Linked DNA regions of Homo sapiens: regions 2 and 3 are each linked to region 1. Evidence: fine-mapped expression QTL. A gene starts in region 1. Each other region holds a variant in brackets. All regions are shown on one strand. Distances are between the middles of the regions. Region 1 holds the start of GCNT4 (glucosaminyl (N-acetyl) transferase 4). Region 2 has its middle 50 kb from the start of LINC02122. Region 3 overlaps ANKRD31 (ankyrin repeat domain 31).

The links. PIP is the estimated chance that this variant, and not a neighbour inherited with it, causes the effect. A credible set is the group of variants that fine-mapping cannot tell apart.
Region 2: its variant is the best candidate, but not a certain one, in a credible set for the expression of GCNT4 in prefrontal cortex (ROSMAP, PIP 0.66).
Region 3: its variant is the best candidate, but not a certain one, in a credible set for the expression of GCNT4 in whole blood (INTERVAL, PIP 0.65).

The regions. Positions count from the first base shown.
Region 1 is chr5:75,048,367-75,059,370 of GRCh38, forward strand. It overlaps GCNT4 (glucosaminyl (N-acetyl) transferase 4), which reads right to left and starts at 4,192. Exons shown (of 4, transcript NM_001366737.1): 1 at 4,063-4,192; 2 at 3,803-3,861. RefSeq lists silencers at 4,439-4,688, 4,909-4,958, 5,079-5,448 and an enhancer at 7,294-7,884.
Region 2 is chr5:74,147,140-74,158,143 of GRCh38, forward strand. No RefSeq gene overlaps it. Among named protein-coding and RNA genes, the nearest start is that of LINC02122, 50 kb to the left of the region's middle. The variant C/T (reference allele first, on the strand shown) is at 5,856.
Region 3 is chr5:75,158,845-75,169,848 of GRCh38, forward strand. It overlaps ANKRD31 (ankyrin repeat domain 31), which reads right to left. Exons shown (of 26, transcript NM_001372053.1): 11 at 10,135-10,277. Among named protein-coding and RNA genes, the nearest start is that of ANKRD31, 73 kb to the right of the region's middle. The variant C/T (reference allele first, on the strand shown) is at 4,246.

The sequences.
Region 1 (11,004 bases):
CGTGCAAAAAATTAACTGTATTCGTTAATTGAGAACCCTGGTTCATGGAGAATTGTGGTTCGTGGAGAAACGTGGTTTGACAAGAGCATCTCTAGAGGACAGTTCAGTGTTTTGGCTGACCATACATTTGGCACGAGTCACAGTTTAGTTCGAGACTGTCAAAAGAAAGCAAAATGCAGCAAAACAAAAACAAAACCAAAACCATCGTGCTCCTGGACAGCATGCGAACCACAAAGCTGCAGAATGCGAAAGCTGAATGCAGGCTGCAAATCCTTGTTTCTATGAATAGTACCACCCAAAAAGGAAAGCATTTCCACAGTTTAGACCTTGGGACTAAGGAAGGGACCAACCCACTCTGCTCTGTACTGAGCAGACACCCTGAGAAATGAGTTCATGTCTGGCTACATCCCTCTGCTGGGTAGTAACTGATAGAAGTTAAGCAGCCCAGTGAGAAGCTAGTGACCACAAGACGGACCTGGAAAGGTTAAAGCTGAAGAAGTAATGACTCAATAGAGGAGTGAAAGCTGGCTCTAAATATTTAAAGAACTTATTAAAACACAAATTGCTGAGCCTCACGGGTTCCCAGGCGATGCTGATGTAACTGGTCCTGAGGCCACACTTTGAGAACCGCTGCTCTAAGTAACAAAATTGTAGTTTGTTTTTGTAATACTCTGTAGTTCTAAGATTCCACTAAGACCCGATGGCCTGTTTCTCAGTAAATCCACATTGGGAAGAATTTACTGGTTTTGAAGCCTCACACATTTGTGATTAAGATTGTTCTTTTTAACATTTCATATCGCTTAGCAGAAATTCAATCTTTCCTTTCTGCCCCTTAGTGTTTCTTATTAGTTCAGCTTCATAAAGCAGACTTCTGTTTCTGCTTCATTTTCTGGCATCTTATATGGTAGACATTTTTCCTCTGGTCTTCTTCCACTTTGCCTGTATTTTTCTGTTACGTTCAGCAGATCAAACTTCATAACATATTAAGTTGTGAGCTACCTTTATCAAATGATATCTGGCTCCCCACATCTAAAATAGTAAATACTGATCCAATCCTGTCTCCAAATGCCCACACTGAGCCCACCATCCCCAGAGATCTATTAGGATGGAAACGGCTGCATTCAATTCCTGATTAATTTTCTTTTCTCTTATATACTTGAAGCTTCAGTCTTTAGATCCCACTAGGAAAATTACAAGCATATGGGAATGCATATAAATGACATGCAAAGTAATGCAAATTAATACAAAACATACATCTCTAAATTGCTTGAGAAAAGTCTGTAAGCCTCAATGTTGATGTTATCTGCTTTGCTTCACTACACTCTGGCAAGCAGTGACTGGATCCCTTTATTACAGTTAATTTTATACAGCATCGAGCACCTGACACTTGTTGACACATTAAGTAGAAGGTGCCTTGCCTTGTGAGTCAGGCAAATCGGATCCTGGCCTTAACTTTGCCATTCCTTGGCTGTATGGGCTTGGACAGGTTCTCAACATTCTCTACGTTTCAGATTCTACAACCAGAAATGATAGAAATGGCATCATGATAATAAAACCACCAGCACTAAGGTTTACTGAGCACTTTATGTGCTTGCATAATGCACACAGGCAATCCTTACAACAGCCCACAAGGAGGTGCTGTAGAGCACGTACCCCTTAGGTGTGGTGCCGTTTCAGAGACCAGGAAACTGAGACAGGAATGTCAGGAAGCTTGGGCCTGGTCCTAAGCTAGGCAGTGACAAGAGTCAGACCCAGGAGCTCAGCAGTCTCACTGCGAGGCCTTGCTCTTAGCCATGCTGCATCTCTGTTGCGTGATTATCATCCATGTTTCTCCTAAACATTACATTTGTATGATCTGTGAAGTAAATCACTCGCAGTCACACGTGCTTTAAAACACTGTTTCTGTAAGATGTTGACAGTTTACATTACATGAGCTTGATATCAAAATACCATCGCAATCCAAGGGGGAGGGGATCCAGACATCCTGTGTGTTCAGCTTCTCCTTCCAACTCGCTCCATCGCATTCACATATGTCTAAGGCTCCCTCATCTTAAAGTACCTAGCCCTCCGTCCCACCTCTCACTCTGGGAGCAGCTTCCAGTCCTCAGACACCACCGCCTCGCCCCACCCCATCCACCCCAGGATTCAGACCACACCCCTCGTACAGAGGACCACCATCTGTGGAGAGTCAGCCAGCGAGTGCACTATGTGGCCACTAGGGAAGCCATTCCACTTAGGAGCCTCGAAAGCTGCCCAGACCCAATAAAACCAAACTTGTCTTTCCTCCTCCAATGTTCCCTGTTTCCGTAAATACCAGCACCCAAGCTTAGAGGGAGTCACGCTGCACTCTCACACCCTACACAAAACTCATCTGCTCTCACACCCTACACAAAACTCAGCCCCAGGTCTCTCCAGAGCCGGCCTTGAATCCGCCCAACGTGTCATCCCTACTGGCACTACCTCAGTCTCAACTGCCAGGCCTCCTGCACCCTCTGACCCAGCCCTGTCTACTTAGGGGCTCCTCAAGTCCATTCTCCACGGGGCAGCTGGAGTTTTGTTTTGCTTTTAATCCATATCTCATCTGCGTACTATCAGGTGTGAAACTGTCCTGAGGATCCACTCGCCACAATGCCCCTTGGCATCACCTGGCAGTGGTATCTGCTGGCCTCCCCGGTGCCATTCTCCATCCTCCCCTCAGGTCATACTGAACCTGTCTTTTCTTCCACCTCTCAGGCTCTCCTCTCCTCTGGTCTCAGCACACACCATTCCCGGGGATGGGAATACTCCCCTTTCTCACCTCTCCCCTCCCCCATGGCTGCTTAGTTTACACAGCTCCCACTCATCCTTGAGCCCACCTTCAGTCTCCCCAGCAAGGCCTCCTGCCTCAGCACAGATGCAGTGAGCTGCAGCACATCTGCGCCTCACAGCAGCCAATGCGCTGTTCACATTGGGACAGTTCACAGCCTGGTTCACAGCCAGTGCTCAACACAGGTGGCCTGAAGAACTCACTTTTCAGCCTTGCTTTGCTCATTTTTACTGTCTCACTGCTTTCTTCCCGCCTTGTAGCCTAAGAAGGAAATCCCCTGAAGCTGACTCCGTTTTACCTCTCCTATGTGGTGCTGTGATAAGCCCCAGGTCACCAGGTCATGCTCCCAGCACCCGTGGGTCAAGGATGAGGCAGAAACAGCACCGTCAGGTACAGGGCCCTCTACCTGCTCTCTCTCCCTCTCCCTTCCTAGAAAACAACCATAGGTCATTCAAAGTCAGTTTGGGAAGCACCTGTATTTATGGCCTGCTTATCTTGAAGGCACTTGGCCAGGTGCCATAAAGTGCTAACTCTGACTGCCCGACTATGCCATTCACCCCACCTACCTCTGTGCAGGAGATGTGACATTTAGCAAATCAGTATAAACTTTTTCCCCCAAAGAAAAGAGTATAAACCTTCTCATCCCACCACCACCCCGCAGCAGGAAACTCCTTTCAGTCTCCCCATAGAAAATTCAGCGGCCACACAGTTCCTTGGCTATTGTTTCTCTCCTGATACCAGAAAGAGATAAATCAACAACACATCTTAACTGGTCATTTCTCACACAAAATTGGATCCTTAGAAAGTGCAACATAGGATATGCTCTCTATAATGATTCACTTTTTCACTTTTAAAGATTTTACTTCCTTAAGAGACTATCAACAAAAGCTGTCAGAATGAACTGTTAGTTTCTAGAATGTTTTAGGCTTATTGATGCTTTAATAGGGACATGTTTTATGAATGCAAGATCAAAAAGGGCGACTTCTGTCTACTCACATGAGACAATTAAACGCATTATATTAGCCCCAACTCTGTTAATCTTCTGGTTTGTTGTTCTTCCATTTTTAAAGACAAAAAAAAAAAAAAAAAGAAAAAGAAAAAAATGAATTTAAAAAGTGCCCCAAGGCCAATATCGCCTCTCTGCCTGCCCAACGAGGGGACAATACACTGTTTCCCAGACTACGTGACTCGGAAAACTTCCCCGTCAGGGAAAGCTGAGTCTTTAAATTTACAAAACACCCACTCGCCCCGTTTACCTAGCACCGTTTCCTACGTGAAGACTGCAAATGGACTCGAGCGTCCCGTTTCTCGGCTCGGATCCCAGAAGCTCCCGACCCGCTGTGGTAGGCACCGCCACCTCGCAGGCAGACGATCCCGGCCCGCTCTGCGGCACAAAAAACTTGACCTTAAAAAGCCCAGAAACTGGTCTCTGGGAAGGGCGCGGCCTGGGAGGCGCGGCCCGCAGCTTCCGCCCCCAAAGAACAACTCGGAGGCCCCCTCCAGCCCCGGTTGCCCTGGCGCAGAAGCCGCGGTAGCAGTCCTTTCAGGCGCCCCGCGTCCCTGTCCCGAAGCCCAGGGGCGGGGGCTCGGGCAGCATCGCTTGTCCCCTCTGGTCCAGGGCTGCGGAGAAGCGGCAAGCGGCTCCGAAAGGCAAGCGTCACGAAGCCGGGCTCAGTAGCTCCCCCGGGCCCCCTGCGCCTCGCAGCGGCGCGGGCCAGGCTGGGCGGCGCTGGGCTCTGAAGGGCCAGGACGGCGGGATGCCCCTGCTCCCGGCAAGGGCGCGCCCACGAGCCGCTTCTTGGCACTTGGGGAGAGTCCCGGGAAAGCCCGGCGCCGGCGCGCTCGCGACTCCAGCCTGGCGGCTCCACTCCGCCCGCGAGCCCAGGAAGCCGGCTCCGCGGCCCGCGCCCGTTATCCAGGACACGCTCCGCGCCCGCCGCCCGCTGCCCTTTCCCCCCGCTGGCCTCGGGGAACTTCCCCGCGTCTGGCCGCAGGCGGCGGCTGCCGCGGGGAGCCCCGAAGTTGCGGCGTCTGCTAGGCGCGCGCCGGGTCGCCCACCCGGCCCGTGACGCTGTGTCCGTCCGCCGCGCGCTCTGGTGGCCCCGGGGCTCCTGCAGGCGCGGAGAGAGGCCGGGGTTCAGCCCGGTTCCCCGCGCGGCTCCGAGAGGGCGCCCCCGCCTGCCGCCTGGAGATGGACGCGGCGCCGAAGTTTTCCCCGGCGGGAAAACGAAAGTCGTGAGGAGCAGAGGGTCGGGGCGTCCCGGCGGAGACGAGGCTGAGACCGGGTTAACATCTCCAGCCCCGGGCGACCCTCGCTCCCCCGCGTGGCCAAGTCGACTTACGAGAGGGAGCGGGCCAGCCCCGAACGCGGGGTCCGTGCGGCTGCGGAGGCCGCCCCGGCGGGGGCCGAGGGTTGCGCTCTGGGTTCCCAGGCTCTCCGCGGCGGCTCGCTCTCGCCGCGCTCCTCCGTCGCCCTGCTGGGGAGCCGCTCTCGCCCGGCCCGGGGTGGGAGAGCGCTGAGCGGCCCCCGTGACGTGCGGAGAAAGTAGGAGCGCCTCCGCGCTCCCGCAGAGGGAGCTCCCTGCCCTGCGCTCCCAGTCCCCGGGCCGCGCTTCGGACAAAGTTCTCAGGCGCGCGCGGTGATCTCGGCTCTCCGCCGCTGCCCGGAGCGTCATCCACGTTCGGTTCCCTCCCACATTAGACAAGAAATCTGAGGTCAGGAGAGCTAAGTAACTTGCCCAAAGTCGCTCACAAGGCAGTGACGAAGCAAACTCACATCCGCGGCTCCTTTTTTCTCCTTGAACGCCGGGCTCTGCGGAGGCTCAGGCCCTGCAGGAATCGCCCAACCAGACAGAAGGCAGCTCGCTCTCATGGGTGAGACGAGGAGTGTCCCACGCAGCCGCGAGAAATATTATCAGCAGCGTGGGAAGGTGGAGCTTTTTGCCGAATAACTAGAGTGCAAAGTTGTTTTTCAAACAGTGCCTACATGCCAAATCGGCTTGCTTTTTATCCTCAAGCGAGAGTGAGGGTGGCGGCTGTGCGGACGCCAATCGGGATCACCGAATAAGTGCAGTGGAAAGAAAGCACACAGCCACTTAACCAATTGGCCGACATCAAGGACTTGGCCTTCCGAGCGGGTTCTTGTGAATATGCTAACTTTGTAAAGCGGGCGCACCACGCTGTGCTTGCTATTCACGCACTTCCAGGAGTCTCCCGCGAGGCTCCACGTCCTTTCGGGGCCGGGGGCTCCCAGGGCTTGCCTTTCAGGGCAGGGAGTGGCACCAGACAAGTCAATCCCAGTCGGTTTGTTCCTTTATCCCTTGCGTCAATCAGTGTTGACTGAGGGCCTGCAATGTGCATGGCTGTTGGGTGGGGAGCTGGGTAGGACCTAGGACCTAGGACCCAGTGAATCTCAAAGAGGGAGGGTCACATGGGTCCCCATATGCTTCACTCCCAGAATCTGGAATCTGCCCAAAGCAGTAGAGAGACTTTAAGTCTACCCCAGCCCCCACGCCTTTTTAAAAACTCCCTGTGTTCGGAGAGCAAGTGTTTTAATATTCGTTTTACAGACGTACTTTCAAGCAAATGGCCAGCTTTGCCTTCATTTTCTCCCCATGGGACCGCCTCTTTCTGGAATAATAATTTACACTTCCTGGGTCTCCCTCATTTGCACATGATGATGGCGATAGTCATGATGGTAAAAACAATTAAGGCTTCTATTATCCACCCTGGGCACTGTTCTAAGCAATTTATGCGGATTAACTCTTTCAATCCTCACAACTTTATGAGGGAGGTGCTATTTTAATTCTGATTTTACCGATGATGAGAGGGAGGCAGGTGAGGTGACATAACTTGCCAGTAAGTGGGTGGTCTGAATGGTGTCCATGCTCTTAACCACTGAGGTCTCCAAGACTGGAATTTAAAGGGACCACTAGCCATCATTAACCACAGCTTACACATCTCAAACAAGCCATGCTAGGAAATACATGCACTTCCTCCTAAAGAGGTCAATTTTATTATTTTGCGTGTATCATGTCATAAAGTGGATATCCATTCACTCACTTGCTCCTCTATTTCCAACTTCCAAATCAACTATTTTGTCCTAAAGCAAACTATTTCTTAAAAACCTATTCATCATAAAGTTTCCAATTTTTGTTTTGGATTGTTTTATTCTCAGACCATACCCAGCTGTTTCCCTCTCCTTTCTACTCACTGCCTTAAGTTACGCTTTTTTTTTTTTTTTTTTTTTTTTTTTTTTGTGAGACGGAGTCTTGCTCTGTCTCCCAGGCTGGAGTAAGGTGGTGCAATCTCGGCTCACTGCAACCTCCGCTCCTGGGTTCAAGCGATTCTCCTGCCTGAACCTCCTGAGTAGCTGGGACCACAGGCGCACACCAGCACGCCCAGCTCATTTTTGTATTTTTGGTGGAGACGGGTTTCACCATATTGGCCAGCCTGGTCTCAAACTCCTGACCTGGTGATCTGCCTGCCTCGCTTCCCAAAGAGCTGGGATTACAGATGTGAGCCACTGCGCTTGGCCAGGTTACTCTCTTTCATCCCTTAAAAACTTGTTGTAACCGGCCCTGCAGGTCTTCTGAAAGTGGGTTGCCCAAAGATGGTAGTGGCCCCAGAATGGTCTCTGCCACATTGTAAGCATGCTCATTGTGCTCAGCATTCCTGTGTTATTCTCCTAGGACTGCCTAACAAATACCACTGACTGCACAACTTAAAACAACAGAAATGTATTTCCTCATAGCTCTGGAGGCTGGAAGCCTGAAATCAATGTGTTAGCAAGGCTGGGATCCCACTGTGCCCCCTCCTAGCTTCTGGTGATTGCTGATAATTCCTGGCATTCCTTGGCTTGCAGATGCATCATTCCAGTCTCTGGCCTTTTCCTGTGTGTCCTCTGCAAACACATTTCCCTCTTCTTTAAGGATATTGGTCATTGGACATAGGGCCCACCCTAATCTAGTATGACCTCATTTTAACTTGATTACTTGGCAAAAACCCTATTTCCAAATAAGGTCACTTTCACAGGTTCCAGGTGGACATGAATTTTCAGAGAATGCTGTTTAACCTGGTGCAGTCTCCAAAAGTCATTGTTAATAAAAACATATTGCCTGAGCTAAGGATGCAAAGAGGTGTAAGTCACAGCCCCTGCCCTCCAAGAAACTCTAGTTACAGAAGTAGTCCTTGCACTGAGAACATAAAGACAGGCGTCACTAAGAGCCAACTAACTGAAGCCAAATGAAAATCTAGGGACCAAATGGCAGCTGTACACAAGGAATTCAGCCAAAGGGGCACATTCACTGAGGATACGGCTGCAAGACTTCACTCAAAGGTGAGGGTGATTCAAACACATCTGTGAGGGAAAAATTGAAAAAGCAAAGAGAAATAAGGAGAGCTTCTCAGAAACACAGCTCCAAGGGGAAGAGCATGCTGGCAGAATTTTGCTTCTTGAGTTTCATGCAGAAATGAAAGACTGAAGGGATGCAAATACCTACCATCCTGAGTATAAGAACATGGTGAATTACTCTTACTGTACTAATAGCATGCTGTAATGCTATAACAATTAGCATGCTTTAAAGTGCTCTCTTCACTGGGCACAGTGGCTCATGCCTGTAATCCCAGCACTTTGGGAGGCTGAGGCGGGAGGATCCCTTGAGGTCAGGAGTTTGAGACCAGGCTGGCCAACATGGCAAAACCCAGTCTCTAGTAAAAATACAATAATTAGCCGACGTGGGGTCGGGCACCTGTAATCCCAGCTACTTGGGAAGCTGAGGCAGGAGAATCGCTTGAACCTGGGAGACGGATGTTGCAGTGAGCTGAGATCACTTCACTGCACTCCAGCCTGGGTGACAGAGTGAGACTCCTTCTAAAAAAAAAGAAAAGAAAAAAAGTGCTCTCTTCTTTCAGTAATTTTATTTGATCTTTATGACAATCCTGGGTGTCATCAGAGAAAGGGACATCATATTTTATAACCAAGGATCCCAAGGTTCAAACAGTCAAGTAACTCGCAAAGGTCAAACAGCAAATCATTTATAGAGTTGATATGAAGCATATTTGCATGGATATTCCTCAGTTAGGAATGTCCCCATGATGTTGGCTCGTGGGCCAGCCTTCCAGTATTTATTGCATTGTTTTTGGTCCAAAGAAAGCATTTAAAGAAAAAGAGAATCCTGCAAGAAATGGAAAGTTTTTCTAACAGCTACGTGAATCTCAAACTGGAATTGTGAAAAACCTTCCCCAGACATCTGAACTGGTTTCACTAAACCTTCAGAGGATTTGCAAGTGTATTGAAGTCTCCTTTAGGCCTTCAGAGACTTAATAGGATCTAGTGGGCTTCTGCAGAACTTCGCTGATTATCTTAAAGAAATAGGGGTTGAATGAAACTTTGAGGGCACTCAGAACACTGAGAAGTTGAGGGGAAGCTGAGTAAAAAACAAGAAATTACATTACAGGATGGTATGCCAGCAGAAATTGACAATTAAAACTCAGTATCTGATCTCACCAATGTGTAAAGTTATACACAGACGACCAGATCATGGCATGTTTTGAAAATTTTCTGATAAGAATCTGCAACTATGACTAGCAACGGAAAGCAAGCAGGAAGTCTAGTGTTGGGCTGAGTATCTGATGATTTAATGTGTTTCCCTGGATTTTCCTTTGCTTGGCAAGCAGGTAACTTGCTGAATCTTCTGCTGGCTATCTTTAAAAATATATTTAAGCTTGAAATGCTTTTGATTCTAGTGTGATTCACTGAGTCTTGGTTGTGCATAGTGCTACACTGGTTGCTATGGGAGAGTACAAAAATATAAAAGACAGCTCCTGACCAAAAGAAAATCTCATCTAATTCAGGACACATGAGACATATAGAATAAAAATTATATAAGTGTGGTTGCAATGGAATTTGTAAGCAGTTATTACTCAGTTCACTGTTCAGATGTGACTTCTTGAAAACAGGCCCTCCTTGGCTACTCTTTTTAGAACAACGGCCTGTCCCACCTCCACATCACCTGTTGGCCTTTTTCCTGCTCTGTGGTCTTTATGACACTTATTACTATCTGAAATTAAATTGTTGCTTGTTTACTCTGCTCCTAGACATACTATCTCTGAGGGCATGAGCTTTATCTTATTCTCTGCTGTATTCCTAGCACCTAAAGAAATGTTGGGAACATATTAGGTGCTCATTAAATGGTTGTTAAATAAATGAATAAAATACATATTAACCAACTGAGAATGGACTAAGATAGCTTGGATTAATGCTCCTCACATTTGCCTGATAAGACTCATCTAGGCATTTGGAAAAAAATTTGCTGCAGGTTCTGATTCAGTAAGCCTAGAGTGGGGCTCAGGAATCTATAGTTTTAAGACATATCCCAGGTGATTCTTTTAATAGGACTGTCTGGGAAACGTGCATTACTACAGTAATAGAGGGTTGGTGGGAAAGAAAAGTGAATTGATAACAGCAGGTTGCAGAGGTCAGTGGCTGTTCATTGTAGTTATCTGGAGGAGATTTTAAAAATACTGATACCCACTCCAGACCAATGAAATTAGAATCTCTTAGGTGGGGGCAAACTTGGGCAGGGTATTAAAGCCCAAGGCAGAGCCCTCATGATGTAATCACCTCTTAAGGGTTCCGCCTCTCAACACTGTTGCATTGAGGATTAAGTTTCCAACACATGAACTTTGGAGAACACATTCAAACCCTAGTCCCTGGGACTACTGATGCTCAGACTCATTCTCAAAGATTCTGCTGTATTCGATATAAGGGAGTTGTTTTTCTTTGTGTGTGTGTGTGTGTTTGTGGGTGGCAGAGAGGAGAGAGAGAGAGAGAGGCCGCAGTGTTGCTAATTAGAGGTTTAGAAAGAAAGAGGAGAGCCTGGCCCATATAATCTTCATAATAACAACAGCTATCATTTATTGAGCAGTCACTATGTATCAGCCACTGTGATGCCTGCTTTGCACAGAGTACCTCATTTAATCCCCCACAAAAACTGTAGGAGGGAGGCACATTGGCAGCCCCATTTACAGACATAGGATGAGACTGGGGAGGATTACAAGGTTCTATGACTAGGGATTGGTAGAGCTGGGATGTCAGCCTAGAACTTATACTCATATCCTCTGCCAAAAACAGGTCTGAAGAGAATGTCAACAAGGAGAAATTCTCTGTGGTAGAGGTCACGTCCAGTCATTTTAAG
Region 2 (11,004 bases), 900 kb before region 1:
AAATTGGCTGGAGGTAGCAAAGGCTACAAAAGTTAAGCCTGTAAGGAGCTAAGGCTAGCAATCTGGACTCATGATAGCTTCCCAGTGGAAGATACTCCTGGGGATCTTAGCAGGACTCTTCCATCTCTGGGACGGTGGACAGCTTTGTTTGGAACAGCAGCTTTCAAACTTTAATCAGCTAGGGAGTTTATCAATAATGCAGATTTTCAAGCCTCTCCCCCTCAAGATAGTCTGGTTTCTTGTATCTGGATTGGGGTCCAATAATTAGCATTTTTAGTAAGTTCCCCAATGTGATTCTGATACAAATGTTCCCAGATCACAAGCTGAGAAGCACAGTGGGTGGGACCTCTTTGGTGGCTCTTCATGACGCCAGCTATAAAGATGCCTGGGTTTCTATGAAGCCACCTGGCTATTCCCCTCCTGTAGCTAATCCCTAAGCCCCAGAACTCAGCTATTCTCTACAGCCAGGTGAATCCAGACGCCTCCTGTACCTGCCCACCTATTTTCCATTAACAGTGAAATAGCACTTGGGCAATTGTGAATAACATTGAGTCCACAAGACATCTCAAAACAGGCATCTAGAAGCCAATGTAAATAAATAATGGAAAAGAAACATTTGGGCTTGCTTTTGCAACTCTGAAACACTTGATTGTCAGTCTCACACAGTTTAAGACTTGCTTATATACTGCCTGGTCTGTTTGTTCTTGTGTGTCTTCATCTTCCAAATAAAATGTAACTTCTTGGGAAGAAGCCTCAAACTTTTCTCTTATTTCCCCTACAGCATCTACTACAAAATTGGTATTCAACATAGGATGACAGTTTCTGACTTATAATCAGGTTACTTTCAAAGGTTCATTTTTCAGCCAGTTATTTGGATTTTGTTTCTCATTAGGACAACGTTATAAAGTGTAGTTATGTTCCCAGACCAGCCCCCAAATGTCTATTTAATTGGCAACATAGCTGAGTAGTACTACAAGACCTGAAATCATCTACAATAGTGCTTTTATGGGGAAATGCATTGCAGATTCCAACTGAAGATGCCAGGAGATCATTTTTCTGACCTTGGTTCCAGGACAGGCCTTGACCCATGTATAGTTAGAACTGTCCTCCTGCCTCCACACACACACACACATACATATATTAGACTGGCTGTCTTGAGGTGCATGTTCCAAAGTTGGGGAAGGGGTGGCACAAGTTCCTGTTGGGAGACTGGACAGGGATACAGGGCAAGGTGTGCTCCTGCCAGAGTCAGGGCAAAGGGTCTGGAAGAAAGCACATACCAGGGATTTAAGTGGGGAAGTGGTACTGGTGGGAGACTGAAGGGATCCAGAGGGCACAAACTCTCTTGGCTGCAGTTGCAGAGACCAGCTGGGGCTGTCTTGGCAGTCACAGCAGTGGCAGCACAAGCTGTAATGGCCACATTGGCTGGGGTCCCATCATAAGCCTGCAGATATGTTTTGGGGTAGTGGCATTTTAGTTATTAATTGCTGGGTAACAAACCACTCTAAAATGTAGTGGCTTAAAAAAGCAACCATTTTATTTGCTAATGATTGTGTAATGTGGGCTTGCCAGTGGCCATTGTGTGGCTGCAATCAGCTGGTGGAGAGTTTGGGGGTCTGTATTTTTGTGGAATGCCGGGACTACTGGGTTCTCTCTTCATGTAGTCATGGGACTTCTCTATATGGCCTCTCCAGTGGAGTAGCCAGACTTCTTACATGGCAACTCAAGAGAGCAAAGAAGCAAAAATAAACTTCTAGGACTCTGTAAAGGTAGGCTGACCACTGGCACAGTTTCACTTCTGGTTTCAGTGGTCCCAGGACAGCCCAGATTCACGGGAAGGGGCTTCACAAAAGCATGAATTCCAGGAGGCATGGTCCAGTAGGGGCCACCAAGCCAACACATACCGTTTTTGGTGTTCTGTGAGAGGCCCTGAGGCCAAGAGTATTTTGTTAAGAGTATTTCCATTATGACCACCACAACCAGATTGCTAACGTTCCTAGAAAAAGCCTCTAAATAATTTACTTCTCACATCTTTTCATGTCTAAAAGTAAGTCATCTTTCTGCAGAATCCATCCTGTCACTTTTTCCTTCACATTTTCTCACTCCATTTTTTTTTCATCAACACAGCTACCTACTTTACATAGGCAGCGTTCTCAGTCATAATGTCACAACACCTTGGTAAATTACAGTGGATTTTGAGGTGTGTCAAGATAATAGCACATAAATCCCTAAAGTTTGCAAGTAGTTTATTCTTAAAAAGCCAACTAATATAGGTACGAGGTTAGCCCTGTAATAATATTCCTCTTTGATTTATGTATTTACCCGAGGAGTAGAGAGAGGGGTGGAGTTGGTGATAGTGCTTTGGAAATCGGTGTGTAACCCTGGTATGGCAGAGGCAGACCTGGCTGCTTCCCCAATCTCCTCTTCCCTCTAGCAAAACTTCTGTTTGATTTGTGGTGGCAATGTGCCCAGCCTCCTCTCCATCTAAGTATGGCAATATGACTAAGTTCTGGCTAATGAAATAGAGGAAATAGTGTCTGAGACTTCTAGAAAGGTTGCTTAAAGAAAGCAGACTTAACTGGGAAGGGAGCCTTTGTGGCTCACTTTGGATTTCTTCCTCCTGTTGCCTGTACTATGGATGTAATGATTGGTTCACCAGCAGCCATTTGGGATCACAAAGTGACTTTAGGTTAGAAATCAGACTCAAAGATGGTAGGTATAGAGATAGATGGATTAGTAATGACCATGGAGCTTTGTTCCAACCCTGGACTCTAGAAATAGAGATCAAGATCAAGGTGGACATAGAGAGGTTCTTTTTGTTTAAGCCATTATTTTGGATTTCCTGTTATAATCAACCCTATCTTCTGTACTTGGTCATACCCATGAGGATATATAGCCTATTGTGAATTCCATTGCTGTGAATATTGCAGCAGAAAAAATGGTTAAGAACCAATGGTCAAGGCTGTGGAGAATTTTCACCGGGACTCTCTCTCAATCTCTGTGTTCATCAGCCCTCTTGTCAATCCTTAATGGATTGAGGAAGTATTGTTCTGCTTGGACTATAATGATGCTGTTCTTTGTCTCAAGGGCTTCCCATCCATTTCCTAAAGATCTTTCTTATCTGCACTCTTTCATTTGTTTTTTTCTTGTGTATCCGCATTGACTAACATAGCACCTGACACAGTGTAAGTTTAATAAATAGTTGTTAAATGAATGAACAAACTTATCTTCCCTGTGTCTATGCACAGAATCTAGAATGCCTTTTACCTTTCCTGTTCACTACCACATTTCTATTTTGGCTGTATAGCTTATGTTCACCAAGCCCAGGACTGAGCCAGATAAGCTTGGTAACCAAACTCCCATTAGTACCCATGAGCAATACTTGCCAAGTAGATGGTGTGTTTGTTTCATGTTTAAGACATTGCTTTACTTGGGTTCTGTAAGAGGAAGGAACAGAGTCCCACTAGAAGAGGAGGGATCATTCATTGCAAACCAGTCACTCTCCTAATAAAAGCAGAGATGAGTACGTGATTTTAGTCAGGACAGGGATGGGGAAATAAGGAATAGAAGTGACTGAAGAGATGACTACTCAGGGGAAGAGGCATCTCTCAGCCTTGACGTTGAGGAGACAAGGCCATGGGGAGGTAGTTCCCATAAAGCAGGAAATCAAGTGGCAGCTTCTCTATGGAGGTTTAAGCTGAAAAGCAAGAAAACTTGGGTACCATGGGATCTAGGGCCCACCTAGGTAGGCATCTCTAGTGGGGCCATTCACCTGGTATTTTCCATTCTTCTCACATAACTTCGTTGTAGTAGCAAAGTAGGTTCTCAACCTTGGTATCTCTTATATTTATTCCTATAGATTTTTTTTTCTTGTTTACAATTAAACCATTTTATTTCAATTATTTGAATTATGAAGGTACATATTTAACATAATCCAAATAATAAAAGTGACAGTCCCTTACCTCTGCTTTAATTTTTAACTGAAGACTTTATGAAGATGATAAAAGGGCTTGATGAGAATGATTACGCCCATATTCTGAAGTAAGAGCTAATGCAACTTTCAAATATTAACTGCATGCAATTAATAAGAAGGTATACCCTAAGCTTTATAGCATTCCTGATTCCCTTCTCATGGAGGCCCCAGAGACAGCCTTTAACCTGTGGGGCTAAGGGAGCCATCCCTCTATTGGTCCAGTCTAGAGCCTGTTGAATGTTCCATGGTAATCTTGCCTCAAACACTGTTATCCATGTTTAGGTGTCTGCTGCTTGCTTCAATGTATTCATTATTAAATTTTACTTTTTGGCTTATAATTTGCCCAAATGCAGGTTTCGAAGATGATGTCTTTATGAATTGATTTCTATGGAAGATCCTGCTTTCCTCTAATATCTTCTGCAAAATATTGTCTGTCACTCTGGGATAAGGTAGCTCTCTGTTTCTCTAACTCGAAGGCTTATGATGATTATCTTTGCAAAAATCAGCATCCTCTGTCCCGGTACCATTTGCAAGCTCGTGGGAGGAGTTCTTTAAATACTCATTGGTTGGAAAGAGGTTCTTTCTGATTGAACTTTAAAACAAAAAGGGAGAAATGCATTCCTGAGATCCAACCTGGTGGGCAAAGGTGTAGAAAACATGAGCAGCCTTTTAACCCACCCATAAGGAAGATCTCCATGTAGTGCCAAAACCAGGAAAGTGTGTGTTGTGTGTGTGTGTGTGGTGTGTGTGGTGTGTGTTTTGTGTATGTTATAACCGTTGTTCCATTTAAGCTTGCAATAGCCACCACTGCTCCTTATACCACATCATGTATGACCCTTTTCCCTGTTCATGATATTAATGTTTTCTGTAGATGCTTGCTTTGTTTATATTTGACTAAACATGGTTTGGCTGGTAGTGCATATTTCTCTAATGTCCATCCTAGTGAGTGCTATCTCAAGTCTTAAGTTTTTAGAAATATAACTCCCTGCTAATTTGACTATTATATAGCACAGAGCTCCATGTAAACATGGTGTTAAAAATCAATTTTGATGATGATAATTTATCAAAAACTTTAGAGAATGATACTGATATGCCTTTGAACAAGGTTGAGGTTTTGGTATAGCCCCACTGCTGGAGTGTCTTCCTTCAAAAGATGTAGGCATTTTAAAACCAGATGGAAGCACAGTATAAAAAGCATTTGGTCACACTTTCCAAGGGATTAACTGAACTAAAAAAGCATAAACATCTCACACAGATTGGCGATGCTGGTGCCGATGACAATGATCTCAACCTTTTACTTTAAGGAATCTTAAACGTTTTTGGAAATAAACATATCTGGACTAGAAGCCAACCGTATAAATAAGAACTAGCCTCTATTGCTCCTGTCTGAAAAGAAATCTGAAGGGGTTGGTTGAGATTTGTTGCACTTGTCTTAAATAAGTTGAATATCCTCAGCCTTTCCTTTCTCTTACCTTTATTGTTTATTTGATTTTTTTTTTCATAGGAGTCTGCATCATTGCTCCAACATGGGTAAAAAAATAGCCTTCAGGTCTAAACATATTTACTTCTCAGAGCTTGTATTACAGTTAGAGCTGGAAAATGAATGCCAAACATAAATTCCTGCATGCAAAATGCTTCCCCATCTACATGGGCTTGACAATGACCAAGTCTGGGACTCAGGATGGTGGAGGCTCGTTTAGGCTGTAACCTCCATGAGGTTGCACTGGTTATGCTTTGAACTTTGACTGTAACCCACAAAGTGATACTTTTCTTTGTGTCTTGTTGAGTTTTGGAAATCTTTCAAAGTTACCATAAAATATTTAAGACACAAATAGAAAACTCTCAACTATTCCTGCATATCATTAGCGTGAGAGTGTGGAAT[C/T]GTTTTCGCAATGTTGACACTGTCCATTTTTCCGTGTACTTAAAAATGTTTATTTTTAGTTTCTTTTCGTCTGCTTTTCAAAGAGTACCTGGCTTTCAAATATCATTTTCTCCAGGGAGTCTTTAATATTCCAAACACTCTGAAGAAACATTCCATGGTCATTAAGGCTGTCAGAGGAAAAAAACAACACTTGTAGTGTCTCATCATCTTCACCAAGTTGTCACTTTCTTAAGGAAACCAGTCTCAAAGTGACCCACTACATATTTTAGTATGTTGACTTTTTGAAGGAACAAGGATATTCATCATTTAATTATCCCCAGGGACCACTGTTTGACAAGACATTTTTAAAAGGAAAATCGGTGTTTTCAGAGTCAATTCTGCAACCTTAAACATGATGTAGTCAGCATCAAATACCCTCTAGAGATGAAAGGTGACCTCATCAGCAGCACACTGAGATTTAAGCTCAGCATATTTTTCCAGAAAATATGGATCTTGCTCTTGGCTTTCTAGTGGTGATCTAATTTTCATGGCTATGTTAAAAAGAAAACACACAATAAAAGGATTTGAAGAGCTCTGCTTGTTTCATGTTGGAAAAGCACTGTAATTTATAGTCATGTACTTAATCAAAATGCTTTATCTTAGTGTTAGGAACTCTAAGTTTCATTTCAAAGGGATATCTAAAGATCACCACCAAATGGAAAAGCCAGGATTATCTGGGTAAATTCCAGACATGTTCTTCTGCTGGAGGAAATCACAGCACAACTGCTTTCTAATGCTTGTCCTGGTGGATAAGGCCGAAGGCCATGTTCCAGAATGTTGAATTCTAGAGCAATGGTTCTGAAACTTGAGGATGCTTCAAAATCACCTGTGGGAGGGGGGAGGCTATTAAAACACAGATTGCTGAGCTACCCCTGGAGTTTCTGATTCAGTAGATTTTGAATGCATCCTGAGAATTGAATTTCTGCTAATGCTGTTGACTCAGGGGCCACACTTTGAGAACCACTGGCCTAAAGTTTGGGCAGGAGATGTTCATCAGTGGTTCAAATAAAACAGACTGGGAGGTGTCAGAACATAGAATTAAATGTACCAAGGGAATGAGGGGACACAAATTGAGGCAGGGAGGTCAGGCTTATAGTGAGATTGAGCAGAGAACCTTGAAAAGAAGCAAACAAGAAGTTGGCACTGGGATATCACATCTGCCAAAGCACCTCAGTCCAGTGATGAGAGAATACAGAGGTAAGATTCTCCACAGGCCAGATGGATATTTAGCATTAAGATAGTAGCTGTCAAGGTTCACTTCACTCAGCTGGGGTTCAGGGATGGCTCCAAACCTGTGGTGACAACTGATAAGAGTATTGTGGGGCCCTAGTCCTCAAAAGGACTTGGAGAAACCAAGAAGATGGCAACAGGTATTCAATGTGTCTGTTAAGGTAACTCTTGCTGCTGCAACAGATGCAAGAGAACCCCCAAGTCACAATGACTGAGTTTATCTCTTGCTCACATACATTTCAAACCAAGTATTCTTGATTAATAAGCACCTCTTTTTAAGGGGTGACTCAGTTACCCAGTGACCGAGGCTCCTTTCATCTTGTGGCTCTCCCATCATCAAGTGTAACTTACAAGAGGAAAGCATGGAGGATCACATGTAGGAGGTTTTTAATGGACCAGGGCTGGAAGGGACTCTTATCACTTCTGCCTAAAATCCACTGATCAGGAATTGACCACGTGACCACATTTACTCAGCAAATCTACTTGTGTCCACCAGCTAAGTGTCCAGGAGGAAGAAGAAACAGGTTTGCTGGCCAGCTAGCAAATCTCTGCCACATTCAGATAAGAGCAGTAAGGTGGAATTATAGTTACTAAAATTGATCACAAGAGGAAGTTTTGCCCACCAACCAGTGATGCACTGGATGCGCTAGCTGGGGATGTTAGCTCATCATTGCATGGATCCTGTAGGTGGGGAGCAAAGAGGGTTGCAGGGCTGCAAGACAAGGACCAGACATGGATTAACAGCTTTTCCTGAATATGCTTGAAGAAGGTTGCATTCTTTCTCTGAAAACCTCTCATCTAAAAATAACACATTGAGGAACTCAATAATGTCCTACAGCTATAAAAGAAGATGTGTGTTTTTTCCATCTTACATCTTTTGAATGAATCCATCCAAAATATCATGGAATAGAGTTCATGTTACTAGTGCAGGTACACATTTCTTGCTTTGAATGTATTTTTAAAATTGTATTGTTTGGAAATATCAATTGAGAAACATTACTGCCAATTTTCCTCTCTTTAACACATTTAGAGAAGATCTTCAATGATAACACAATTGCACATGAAAGGTTTTCAACAAATGAAAAGACTGAAGACTATTCACTTTGGGGAAAATGAAGACAGAGTGGGAATATAATCACATAAAAAATAGGGAAATATCTTAATTAGTGTCCCAATTCCCCTTTTCACCACTGCTCAGGAGAAGTAGCCCACTCCCCACTTCAATTTGCCTTGAAAAACAATATAAAATCTGGGAGTCTGATCTCAAAAAGCATGCAAATCACAGAAAGGTTCTAAAAAGTTTTAAAAGGCTCAATCCTTTTAAAAAAGTAATCTTGCCATTTTGAAATAATTAGGGATGATTCCATGCCATGCCTGCTATGGGGTGATAGTGTGATCCACAGGCCAAGTCAGTGGGGTTAGCAGGGTCATGGTTGAATCCATGGTGATGTCATAGCAATCTTACTGATTGCTCATGAACTTTCGTTGCTTTTCTTTTTAATTTTTTAGTCATTGGTTGCTTATTAGTTGCAGCTGTTTTTGCTTGGGGATGGAGTAATAATTGGTTTAAAGTACTAATTTATATCATTGTGCAAAAATCTTACATAAAAACATCTTTATAAAATCATAGTGTGTTTTTGATCTTATGCTCCCTAAACACAAGGAATATCCTTAATAACAATTAATTCAGACCTCATCATTTTGAATAAGCAGTCTTCTGCAACACAGTCTGCCAGCCATATCCGTAGGTTCTGCATCCACAGGTTCAACCACAGATCAAAAATATTTTTTAAAAATAGGCCAGGTGCAATGGCTCATGCCTGTAATCCCAGCACTTTGGGAGGCCGAGGCAGGTGGATCACCTTAGGTCGGGAGTTCAAGACCAGCCTGGTCAACATGGCAAAACCCTGTCTCTACTAATAATACAAAAATTAACTGGGCATGGTGGCGCATGCCTGTAATCCCAGCTACTTAGGAGGCTGGGACAGGAGAATCACTCGAACCCAGGGGGTGGAGGTTGGAGTGAGCCGAGATCACGCCACTGCACTCCAGCCTGGGTAACAGAGCAAGACTCCATCTTAAATAAATAAAAATAAAAAAATACAAGTAAAGGCAGCTATTTGTGTAGCTTTTACATTGTATTAGGTATTATATGTAATCTAGAGATGACTTAAAGCATATGGGAAAAGGTGCATAGGTGATATGCCCATCATATACCATTTTATATAAGGGACTTGAGCATCCTCAGATTTTGGTATCTGCATGGGCATCGTGGAACCAATCCTCTGAAGATATCGAGGGACGACTGTACTTAAAAGTGAATATGTGAGAAAATAACCCTTCCGATTCTTTAAAGGAAGGAAAGGAGATGGCTCTTATACATCTTAACTATTCACATTAAGAAGTAAGTATGTGCTGGAGGGGAGAGGGATTAATATCTGGCCAGGATGGTGCTATCGACCCCAGCTGCACTTGAAAATCATCTAGGGAAGCTGTGAAAAATACCACTCCCTGGGGTTCCTCCACCCAATTACATCTGAATCTCTGGGGTGGGCTCAGCATTGGTATATTTTTAAAGCTCAGAGAACCACTGGCCTGGAAGATTCTCACTCACCTCCCTTTGTTTATGTGACCTATGACTGAAAGTGTAGGTGGGGAAATGCCCAAAATAGGGCAAGGAGAGCACTCTGGGAAAAGAAAGTGGGTGGGAAAGTGCTATTGCCTTTTTCTAGTCCTACAAACAGAAGGGCCTCGACCTAATCTGACCCGTACACAGTCCTACCAACTGGTTTGGGCCTCCCATTATCTCTTATTTTGTCATGAGGATCTCAAGGTTCTCAGATGCCAAGAATCAAGAGTCCAATTGTATTATGTGCATCCAAGCCTGCTGTAGTCATGGGACATGCCCTGTTTCCTCTCGGCATGTTTATCAAGCTGAGATGGCTGGCTCCAGACCCAGAGTTTTTTGCTGACCTTATACTCAGTGGCATTCATCCATTTATTTACTCTATAAATATATTCACTTGCCTATTCTAGGTATAGGCAACTTATTTGGCACCTGGCTTAACCTGTGTAGTGAAGTAACCAGATTCAAGGCCTCACACTGGAACCCTGTGGTTATGAGGCCACCTCACTCCTGAGCCTTGGTGATTGTTGCCATTGTCAGAGGCTGGCTCCTGGGGTGCAGCCTGCTTGCTGATGGGTAGTGACAAGCTCCCCAACACATCCATGCTCAAGCAGTGGAGGTTGCTAGTGACCAACACCCTGTATCAGGTTAATACCAACCAGTGCCACCTAGGGATTAGAATCTTTACAAGTTAAAGTAACAGCTAGAAAGCTCCTCTTTGATGCTAACCCCTTTTTCTGGGCCATGATTTCAAAGGAAAGACATGATTTGGCATAATGTTTTGTCATTGAGTCTCTGTTGGACCATGCAGAATAGCTTTCTTCAGGCAACTATTAACCATTTCTGTTGCTAAAGAGGTCTCCATCTGACAGACACAAAAAATAAATGAGGCTACATTTTGTAGCCTCTCAGAAGAAGAGCAATTCAAAATACTACCTTAGAGTGTGCCATAGGTAGATTATTTTATGCCCACAGATAATACTTACCTTTAAAAGTTTCTGGACCAAAGTTGCCTCAACTTTGTGGGAAATTTCAAACTTTAATAACCATTCAGGTAATTATTTACTCACAGTAAATTCTGGCCCTAAGTATATAAGTATATGAGATTTTTAGCCTAGAACCTGGGAAAGGTAGGGTAGTCCTACTTTCCAAATAAACTGCACATAATTCTATCTTATAAAAATGACATTTGCTGAAAAGTTCATATGTTGCAAAGTCATTAAAGCCTTACTTATTGGCATATTGTTTATTTCC
Region 3 (11,004 bases), 110 kb after region 1:
TAAAGTATGACCCATACACAGGATAAAAAGCAGCCACAGGAACTGCTTTGAGAGGGCCTATATGTGCAAAAAAACACTCTAAAACAGCTATTATAAATATGTTCAAAGAGCTGATGAAAGCCATGTTTAAAGAATTAAGAAAAAATATGTTGATAATTTATAAAATAGAGAATATTAATAAACAGAAAGTTTTAAAAAAATCAAATGGAAATTCTGGAATTCAAAAGTATAATAACTGAAAAGAAAAATTCACCAGAGGCCTCAACAGGAAGTTTAAGCTGACAGAAAAAAAGAATCACTGAATTTGGAGAGACAGATTAACAAAGATTACACAATCAGAAGAACAGATTTTTAAAAGAATGAAGAAAAATGAATAGAACATCAGAGAAATATAGGGCACCATTAAGCACAACAACATACACATTACAGGAGTTCCAGAAAGACAGGAGAGAGAAAAAGCAGCAGAGAAAAATATTCAAAGAAATAATAGCTGAAAACTTGCCAAATCTGATGCAAAGCATTAATGCACACATCTAAGAAGCACAACATACTCCAAAAAAGATAAACAAAAGGGATATATATCTAGACATAATCAAAGTCAAAATGTTAAAAGTCAAAGATAAAATCATGAAAGCAGCAAAGGAAAAAGAACTTATCATTTAGATAAGAACCCCAATAAAATTAGTATCTCACTTATTAGAAACAATGAGGTCCAGAGACAATGGGATGAGACAGTCAAAATGCTGAAAGGAAAAAAAACTGCCAAGCAAGAATCTTATATCTAGCAAAACTATAAATGAAAGCAAAATAAAGACATTCACAGATAAAAAAAAAAAGCTGATAGAATTTATTGGTAGAAGACCTGCTTTAAAGGAAATACTAAAGGTAACTGGGCTGAAAGCAAGTGACAATAACTCAAATCCACATGAAAAAGCCTATGAATAATGGTAATTATACAGATAATTATGGGAGATAATATGATTGTATATTTATTTTCCTTTATTCCCTTAACTGATTTAAAAAGCAATGGCATAAAACAATATGATATTGTATTACAAGGCCTATAACATTTATAAATGTAATATACTTGATAATAATACCACAAAAGAGGCAGATCAGAATAAAGCTGAATTGGAGTAAAACAATGATACCAGTTGGTAACTTGAATCTATAGGAAAACATGCACAGAGCCAGAAATGTAAAATAGGAAGCTTAATAAAATAAACTCTATAAATAAATACTTGCTCTTCTTATCTCAGCTTCTTTAAGAGACCTAAGACCATATAAAGTAATATTTGTAACAATATATTGTATTTATAAAATATACAAACATAATATGTATAACAGTAATAGAACAAAAATAGGGAAAAATAATTTTGTTATACGGAAACAATGTTTCTATATCTCACTGGAAAAAGGTTAGCATAAGAATGAAGTCAGTTCTGATAACTTAAGAAGCCCTAGAGCATCCACTAAGAGCATAACTCAAAAATATACTAAAAAAATCATTAAAGGAATTAAATTGTTACACCAGAAAATATTCACTTAATGTAAAAAGAAAAGCAGTATAGGTGGGAAAAACACAAAAAGATGAGATAGACTGAAAACAAAAAGGGAAATGGCAGGTTTAAATCCAACCATATCAATAACAACATTAAATATGAATGGATTAAACAACCTAATCAAAAGGCAGAGATGGTAAGATGTGATTCTTTTTAAAAATATACTATCTGAGACATACATTGGATTCAAAGATAACAAACAAGATGAAAGTCAAAGGATGGAAAAAGACATACCATGCAAATGGCAAAAGAGACCTGGAGTGGTGGTCTGGTTTGGCTCTGTGTCCCCACTCAAATCTCATCTTGAATTGTAATACCATAATCCCCACATGTTGCGGGAGGGACGCAGTGGGAGATAATTGAATCATGGGGGCGGTTTCTCTATGAACAGTGTTCTCATGGTAATGAATAAGTCTCATGATATCTGATGGCTTAATAAGGGGAAATCTATTTCTCTTGGTTCTCATTCTCTCTCTTGCTGCTGCCATGTAAGAAGTGCTTTTCCCCTTATGCCATGATTGTGAAGCCTCCCTAGCCACATGGAACTATAAGTCCATTAAACCTCTTTCTTCTGTAAATTGCCCAGTCTTGGGTATGTCTTTATCAACAGTGTAAAAACAAACTAAAACAGTAAATTGGTACCAGTAGAGTGGGGTGCTGCTGAAAAGATACCTGAAAATGTGGAAGCAACTTTGGAACTGGCTAACAGGCAGAGGGTGGTACAGTTCGGAGGGCTCAGAAGAAGACAGAAAAAGGTGGGAAAGTTTGGAACTCCCTAGAGACTTGTTGAATGGCTTTGACCAAAATGCTGATAATGATGTGGACAATGAAATCCAGGCTGAAGTGGTCTCAGATGGAGATGAGGACCTTGTTGGTAACTGGAGCAAAGGTGACTCTTGTTATGTTTTAGCAAAGAGACTGGCAGCATTTTGCCCCTGCCCTAGAGATTTGTGGAACTTTGAACTTGAGAGAGATTATTTAGGGTGTCTGGTGGAAGAAATTTCTAAGCAGCAAAGCATTCAAGAGGTGACTTGTGTGCTGCTAAAGGCATTCAGTTTTATACAGGAAGCAGAGCATAAAAGTTTGGAAAATTTGCAGCCTGACAAGGCAATAGAAAAGAAAATCCCATTTTCTGAGGAGAAATTCAAGTCAGCTGCAGAAACTTGCATAAGTAATAAACAGCTGAATGTTAATCCCCAAGACAATAGGGAATATGTCCCCAGGGCATGACAGAGATCTTCACAGCAGCCCCTCCCATCACAGGCCCAGAGGTCTAGGAGGAAAAAATGGTTTCATGGGCCCGGGCCAGGGCCAGGGTCCCGATGCTGTGTACAACCTAGGGACTTGGTGCCCTGTGTCCCAGCTGCTTCAGCCATGGCTGAAAGGGACCTATGTAGAGCTTGGGCTGTGGCTTCAGAGGGTTCAAGCCCCTAACCTTGGCAGCTTCCACGTGGTGTTGAGCCTGCAAGTACACAGAAGTCAAGAATTGGGGTTTGGGAACCTCTGCCTAGATTTCAGAAGACGTATGGAAATGCCTGGATGCTCAGGCAAAAGTTTGCTGCAAGGGCAGGGCCCTCATGGAGAACCTCTGCTAGGGCAGTGCTGAAGGGAAATGTGGGCTTGGAGCCCTCACAGAGAGTCCCTACTGGGGCACTACCTAGTGGAGCTGTGAGAAGAGAGCCACTGTCCTCCAGACCCCAGAATGGTAGATCCACTGACAGTTTGCACCATGTGCCTAGAAAAGCCAGAGATACTCAACACCAGCCCATGAAGGCAGCCAGGACAGAGACTGTACTCTGCAAAGCCACAAAGGCAGAGCTGCCCACGACCATGGAAACCCACCTCTAGTATCAGCATGACCTGGATATGAGACATGGAGTCAAAGGAGATCATTTTGGAGCCTTAAGATTTGACTGCCCCGCTGGATTTCGGACTTGCATAGGGCCTGTAGCCCCTTCATTTTGGCCAATTTCTCTCATTTGGAATGGCTGTATTTACCCAATGCCTGTACCCCCATTGTATCTACAAGGTAACTAACTTGCTTTTGATTTTACAGGCTTATAGGTGGAAGGGACTTGTCTTGTCTCAGATGAGACTTCGGACTGTGGACTTCTGAGTTAATGCTGAAATGGGTTAAGACTTTGGTGGACTATTGGGAAGGCATCATTGGTCTTGAAATGTGAGGACATGAGATTTAGGAGGGGTCAGGGGTGGAATTACATGGTTTGGCTCCATGTCCCCAGCCAAATCTCCTCTTGAATTGTACTCCCATAATTCCCATGTGCTGTGGGAGGGACCTGGTGGGAGATAATTGAATCATGGGGGCAGTTTCTCCCATACTGTTCTCATGTTATGTTTTAATGAAAAATCTACTTAGATACCACAGCCCAGGTGCTAGGTATGCTCATTGCTATTGGATGTTATTGCTTTTAGGTATTTTCAGTGAAATATATCCTTTTAGAAAGGAAAAAAAAATCTTGAGTTCATACTGATATTTTCATTTCCAACTTCATTGTATAGATTTATGCTTAACTTTGGTTCTCCACCTACCTGTATGTCTTTTTTTAAGCTAAACATTTGTTTCTTGATACAGTAACTGAATTACCTATTTCTTTATCATCTAATATACTTACAATATTACTGTTAACAATGCCAGTATTACTATTAACAATGAAACTACTAA[C/T]GATGTTTATTTTGGTAGTTCTTTTTGTTAGAGTATATTCCATTAGGGATGAAGAGAAAGAATACTGTCTTTTGAAGTACAAGTTTAATATTCTTTATTTGAAATGCTTGGGACCAGCAGTATTTAGAATTTTGGATTTTGGAATATTTGCACTACCCTATGGGTATGATGCAGGCCTTTTTGACACTTTCAATAATATATTTATACCACAGAGCAGAAAATAAGCAAAAAACCCACAGTGAGTAATGCACATAGGTCTTGGCCCCATGTGGGGCAACGTGGGGAACCTGGTGTTGGTGTGTCTGATCTGAACGTGTGCTATTTTATTACCCTTTGTGGATGTGCTTGCATGAAGGAATCTGGGCATGTCCAGAAAAGCTGAATTGCAGCTGAAGGGAGCTAAGAGGGTCTTTTTCTCTTAGGGTGACTGAATAAATTGTATGTTGTGTGCCAGTGTGTTGACTGCAATCATCATATGAAATCAGGTGTGAAATTTTTCACTCATGGCATCATGTCAACACTCAAAAAGTTTTGGATTTCTGATTTTTCGGTTAGGGATGCTCAACCTGGACTTGAAAGAATTTTATTCTCTATCCTACTAACTTCTTATGTAAGAAAGTCAGCTGATTCTAGAGGGAGGAAAGTACTTGAATCAATAGTATGATCAAAGGTGAAAAGCCATGGGCAAGCTTTAAGTAGAAGTGTATTTCCTTAAGGGGCCTACTGTTTAAGCTAAATAAGTGATGACTGTGATGCTAGCCACTTACTGAAATTTCTCTTCTTGTTCCAGTTAAGAACCCCTGGTGGCTTTAAAATATGTCTGTAAATTTAACATTCCTGCCTCCAAAGGTAGAGCCTAATTTCCCTCCTCAAGAGTACAGGCTGGAGTTTTAGTGGCTTGCTTTTAACAAATAGTATATGGCAGAAATGACAGTATGTGACTTCTAAGGCTAGGTTAAAAAGTATTGTGGCTTCCTCCTTGTTCTCAATCTTGATTCATTAACCCTGGGGGATGCCAGTTGTCATACTGTGAGGACATTCAAGCAGCTCTATGGAGGGGTCCATGTGGCAATGAACATGGCTCCTGCCTGTAGCTATGTCAGTGAGCCACCTTAGAAACAGATCTTCCAACCCCAAACTTTTTGTTGATTGTGTTCCCAGTCAACATCTTGACTACAACCTCATGAGAGACCCTTAGACAGAACCAACTCACCTATGCCACTCTGAAATTCCTGACTCACAGATACTGCAACATGATAAATGTTTATTATTATTTTAAGTTTTGTGGTAATTTGTTAGGTAGCAACAGATAACTAATACAGAACCTAAATGTAGGTTTAAAGTAGGTGGACACTCACTGAAAGTCATTTATTACTCTTTGGTGAGGAGAGAGCTTTTTAAAGGTAGAGAGTACATAAGCAGGCGTCAGAATTCCAAGTATTGGGCTACAGAGGAATTGGTAAGTGTAGATAGTTGGCGAAAGGACTGCCAAAGTATTAGTTACTGCCAAAGTAATGTATTCACTCCCTTGGGATCACCAACTGGATTTCCAGAAGAGTGAGGCTCTAGCTTCTGCCTTTTCCCTTCCTCCGTACCTTTTTCTCATGCTCCTTGATCCTGAATTTGACACAAAACATCCAGAGATAAACACCACAGCTCTTATAGCAACCTCCTTATAAAACTATTTTTCCTGAAAGAAACCAATGCATTCTGTATTTTCTTTGCTGAACAAAATGTAAATATCCAGGCATAAATTCTTTATGTTTTGCTTGTATATGGCTTGTATATGAATTATAGATTTAATCGTATCTACCATTGCTTTCAATTTCCCTAGCTGGCCTTAAATTCCCAATGTAAAGTAGTTTGAAAGGTAGAATTTTTAGGTTGCTGTGTCTTAATAATTTTTAAGGGATTTGACTGTTATTGTCCCTGTGATATGTATGGCATTTTTCTCTCCAAGACATTTTATAGCTTTTACAATTAGATTGTGTCCTTTGTTGTGATTCAATGTCTTATGCTTTCAGAGTTGTAATTTTTTGTACCCACTTCCATGGTATGGACCATGTGATCATAAAGGTTTAAAGTCCAAATACTCCAAAATCCAAAAAAAATTCAAAATCCTAAACACTGCTTGTCCCAAGCATTGCAAATAAAGAATATTCAACTTGTACTTCAAAAGACAGTATTCTGACTCTTCATCCCTAATAGCATATACTTTAAGAAAAAGAACTACCAAAATAAACATCATTAGTAGTTTCACTGTTAATAGTAATACTGGCATTGTTAGTAGTAATATTGTAAGTATATTAGATGATAAAGAAATAATTCAATTACTGTATTAAGAAACAAATGTTTAGCTTAAAAAAAGACATACGAGTAGGTAGAGAACGAAAGTTAAGCATAAATCTATGCTATGAAGTCTGAAATGAAAATATCAGCATAAACTCATGATTTTTTTTCCTTCTAAAAGGATATAGTTCACTGAAAACGCCTAAAAGCAATAACATCCAATAGCAATGAGCATACCTTGCATCCAGACTGTGGTCTCTAAGTAGATTTTCCATCAAAACATAACAATTTACAGAAAATATGTGAAGAAATAAGCTAAACAATACCACAAAGATAAAATGAGCCAAAACCAGAATTTGGGAAATTCTATAGGACAAATAAGCCACTTTTTTCAACAAATAGGAGACATAAAAATCCTAAAATATAGAAAGGACTGTTGTAGATTAAAACATATTTAAGATACATAACAAACACATATGATGTATGAGGCTTAATGTATTCTAATTCAAATTAAAACTTTCTATAAAAACACATATTTTAGATAACCTCAGAAATCTGAATATAGACTGGATGTTAAATGGTATAAAGAAACTTAACTTTTATTAGGTGAAATGATATCGCGAGTATGAAAAACTTTTTCTTATCTTTTAGAGGTTTGGGCTCAAGTATTTATGGGTAAAATAGTATTATGTCTGGGATTTCTTTAAAATACTCCAATAACAAAATCAGTTCATGTTCTAGCCAAACAGTCCAGAGTTCTACCACATAATATAATGTATAATCAATTTTCACAAGAGAGTTTACTGCAAGGCCAGGTGTGGCAGCTCCTGCCTGTAATCCCAGCACTTTGGGAGGCCTAGGCGGGCGGATCACTTGAGGCCAGGAGCTCAAGACCAGCTTGGTCAAACTGGTGAAACCCCATCTCTACTAAAAATACAAAAACTTAGCTGAGCATGGTGATACATGCCTGCAATCCCAGCTACTCAAGAGGCTGAGGCACAAGAAGCGCTTGAGCCTAGGAGGCAGAGGTGGCAGTGAACCGAGATCACGCCACTACACTCCAGCCTGGGTGATAGGGGGAAACTCTTGTCTAAAACAAAAACAAAAACAAAAACAAAAAAGGGTTCACTGTAGACACACATAAAATGAATAATCACCATGTCTGAGGCCTATTCTTTCAATATATGTGAATCCCCAAATCAATGCCAACAAACCCCTTCATTTCAACATCCCATACACTCACAGATTACAGGATACTTCAAATAAAAACTTTGTTAAAGTTTTGATAGCTTATTTCAATGCCATTACCTTTACCTACTAACAAGGTAAACCTAATAAAAGAGAAATAAAGGTTAGTCTGGCATGACTTGTTCTTAGTGATGCCTATGATTCCCAAAGAGCACTACATTCTTGCCTATGTCTTCCAACCATATATTTAATAACTTTTTGCACATTTTCTAAGGAACAACATTGAGCTGATCATTTGTAATTCTCAAATTCTAACTTTTCCACTCTTTAAAAAATGTATTTATTAACAGTTTTATTAAGATGTAATTCACATGCCACACAGTCTACCTATTTAAAGAATATAATTCATTGTTTTTTAGTATATTAAAAGGGTTGTATAACCCTCACCACAATCTAATTTTGGAACATTTTCATTCCCCCTAAAAGAAACCCTTTAACCATTAGTTGTCACTCACCATTCCCCACCCTCTAGACCCCCCATCTCTAATCTGTCTCTATAGATTTGACTATTACGGATATTTCAAATTAATGGAATGGTAAGATGTGGATTTTTTTTTTTTACTGCTTTTTCACTTTTAGAAAATAGGATATTATCTTTTAGTATCTCTCCCATAAAACAATTAAGACCTGTAAGATAATATATTCTAGTTCCTTCAACACTCCAGAATGCTTAAAGAAGCTCACACTCCCCAGGTAGTAGGACCAGCATTGGGTTCCCAAGGCTTCCCTGTTTTACATCTTTACTCCTGTGACACCAAAGGCATTTCAGCAATCCAATACCCAGGGCCTAGGCCATTTCTCTGATCATCTTTGCCTGACATCACACCAACTACTGGTTTCAACTTTTAATTTTCATGACTTTTCTCTAGACTTCCACTCCTGTCTTGTCATTCTCTTCTCTCACCACTAGTCAGGATATGCCATGGTGCCAAGAGCATATGAACCACAGGCAGATTGGAGGATTGCAAGAGGGAATGCAGTAAGTGGGGAAACTGGATTCTGGGAATAGAGGCCTGTGTCTTTGGTTCCTTTAACATCATTGAAGGAACCAGAGATTATTTCATATATGCAAAGGCCAAATAGGAGACAGCCAATGCTAGACTGTGAGGCAGAAATGGATTAGAGCCAAGTTCGAAGTGGGGCAAAGGAACAAATAGGAAAGAAAAGAAGAAAAATTAAAATGCTCAGGGCTCACTTTACTCAAAGGAAGAAAAGACTCTTGATCAGTATAGGTCAGCTCTGGGAAGTGAGGGAGCAAATGGGCTATGGTGTTAGACAGAAGAAGTGCTTTGGCGTGAGGTTTCTCTGCTTCTGACAGAGAAAGGATTCACACTGTCACATGTCCAAGCCTGCATTCTTCTGGCCATTAAACTGGATCCTGGGAAGAATTCTCTCCTCCTAGTCCTCTAAACTATATGCAAAAATGACCACCCATCACCAAGATATACATTATCAAACAAGCAAACAAACAATGAAAAACAAACAACAAAAAAAACTGCCTAAACCCTTCTGAAGTACTGTTTCATACTATGAAGGAATATGCCCTGTCTATTCCCATGGCTCCCAGCAGCCTTCTCCGCCTCTGCCTGTGTTAGGCATTTCTTCTGTAAATAGGCAGAACAAATCTTCTTAATCCCAGATAGTTAATACCCTTTCCCATCCTAGAAGTTTTTAAACCCAGAGGCAACTTTCAGTAACTGAAATGAATAACAAGATATCTTCAGCAAGTGCCTCAGCCTTGCAATGTTGTCCCAGGGCCAGAAAAAATGTGTAGTAAGCTAAAATAAATATGGTTTCTGAGATAAACCATGTATACTAGAATTCATAATCTTAATGTTACCATTTATTGCAGTTACTATTAACCAACTGGTATGCAATTATAGTAGTCTGATATTTTAACCTGCTGATATATCCTGGCTGATCATTAAGCTGAACTGATCAGAAACATTATCCTGCCTCAGGCTGATTATGAAAGTGACACCAGACTCCATAAAGCTGTAAACCTCCTATCAGGACTGGACATAACTGCGTAACACTCTATAAGAAGGAAACATTCTTCTAAACCCTATAAAGCACCATATTAAAGGAGTTTTAAAGGAAAACAAGTTGAAAAAAAATACTATGTAACCAAAAAGCTCTATATGGTTATTAAAAGTAACATGTAAAATGACACCTATCATATTACACACAACAAACCCATCACACAGTAAAATTTCATTATAAATTCTAAGTATTCATTAGCAGAATGAAATTAAACTAAAATTTCTGTATGTTTTTCTATTGTGTGGTCCCAGAGATATTTAATATTTGCAAAATATAGTATTTGTTCTGCAAATAAAAGCATCACAGTACCTTATAATGTCCATTCATCACTGCATCATGTAGGGGAGTAATCTGGTATAATCCTTTGATATTTACATCTGCTCCACCTTTTAATAGTTCACTTGCTGTCCGATAAAATCCTCCTACACTAGCTTCATGAAGTGCTGTCCAACCTATCATACAAAAAGATACGGCATTTGTTTACATTTGGCATCTTAATAATGTTTTGTGCTTGCCCTTAAAAAACAACTTTGATTCTAAGTTCTTTCTTCAAAAATATTTTGATTATATGAGTCAAGATAGTATCACCTGAAAGCACACTGTATTATTTGGTAGGTTCAATAAACCTGAAGGACAAATCAAACTCCTACCCCTCAACTCTGCTGTGCAAAAATGTGAAAAGAAACAAAATATTTGAAAGTAATCTTGACCTCTCCAAATAAATAGGCTGTGCAGGAGTCATTATCAACTCAAAGTGAATGCTGGTTGCAGGCTGCTTTTCTGCAGAGATGAGGGGAGAAAAGCTTTATTTCTAGTTCAAGGTACTTCCATTAAAGTATCCAGCTGGCTGGACTACATATCACTCAGTTCAAAAGGATATATTCATTTTTTCTCCTTCTTTACAAAAAGCTATTTATAGTAGTTTAACAAACCACAAACTGCTCCAAGAAAACCAGTCATACAGGCAAATATTCTTTTTCTTTGTTGGCCAAGGACAATGGTATAAGTTACAGATATTTATTAAATTCCAGTAAATCATATGACAGATGTAAGAAAACTTTAAAGTTGCACGTCAAAAGAGACTTTCACTAGCTCTTCTCAGAACACTCATCATAAAATAGGGATTACGAATCTCAGCTTATGTTTCTTAGTTTTTATGAGTATCACAGAATGTTTACC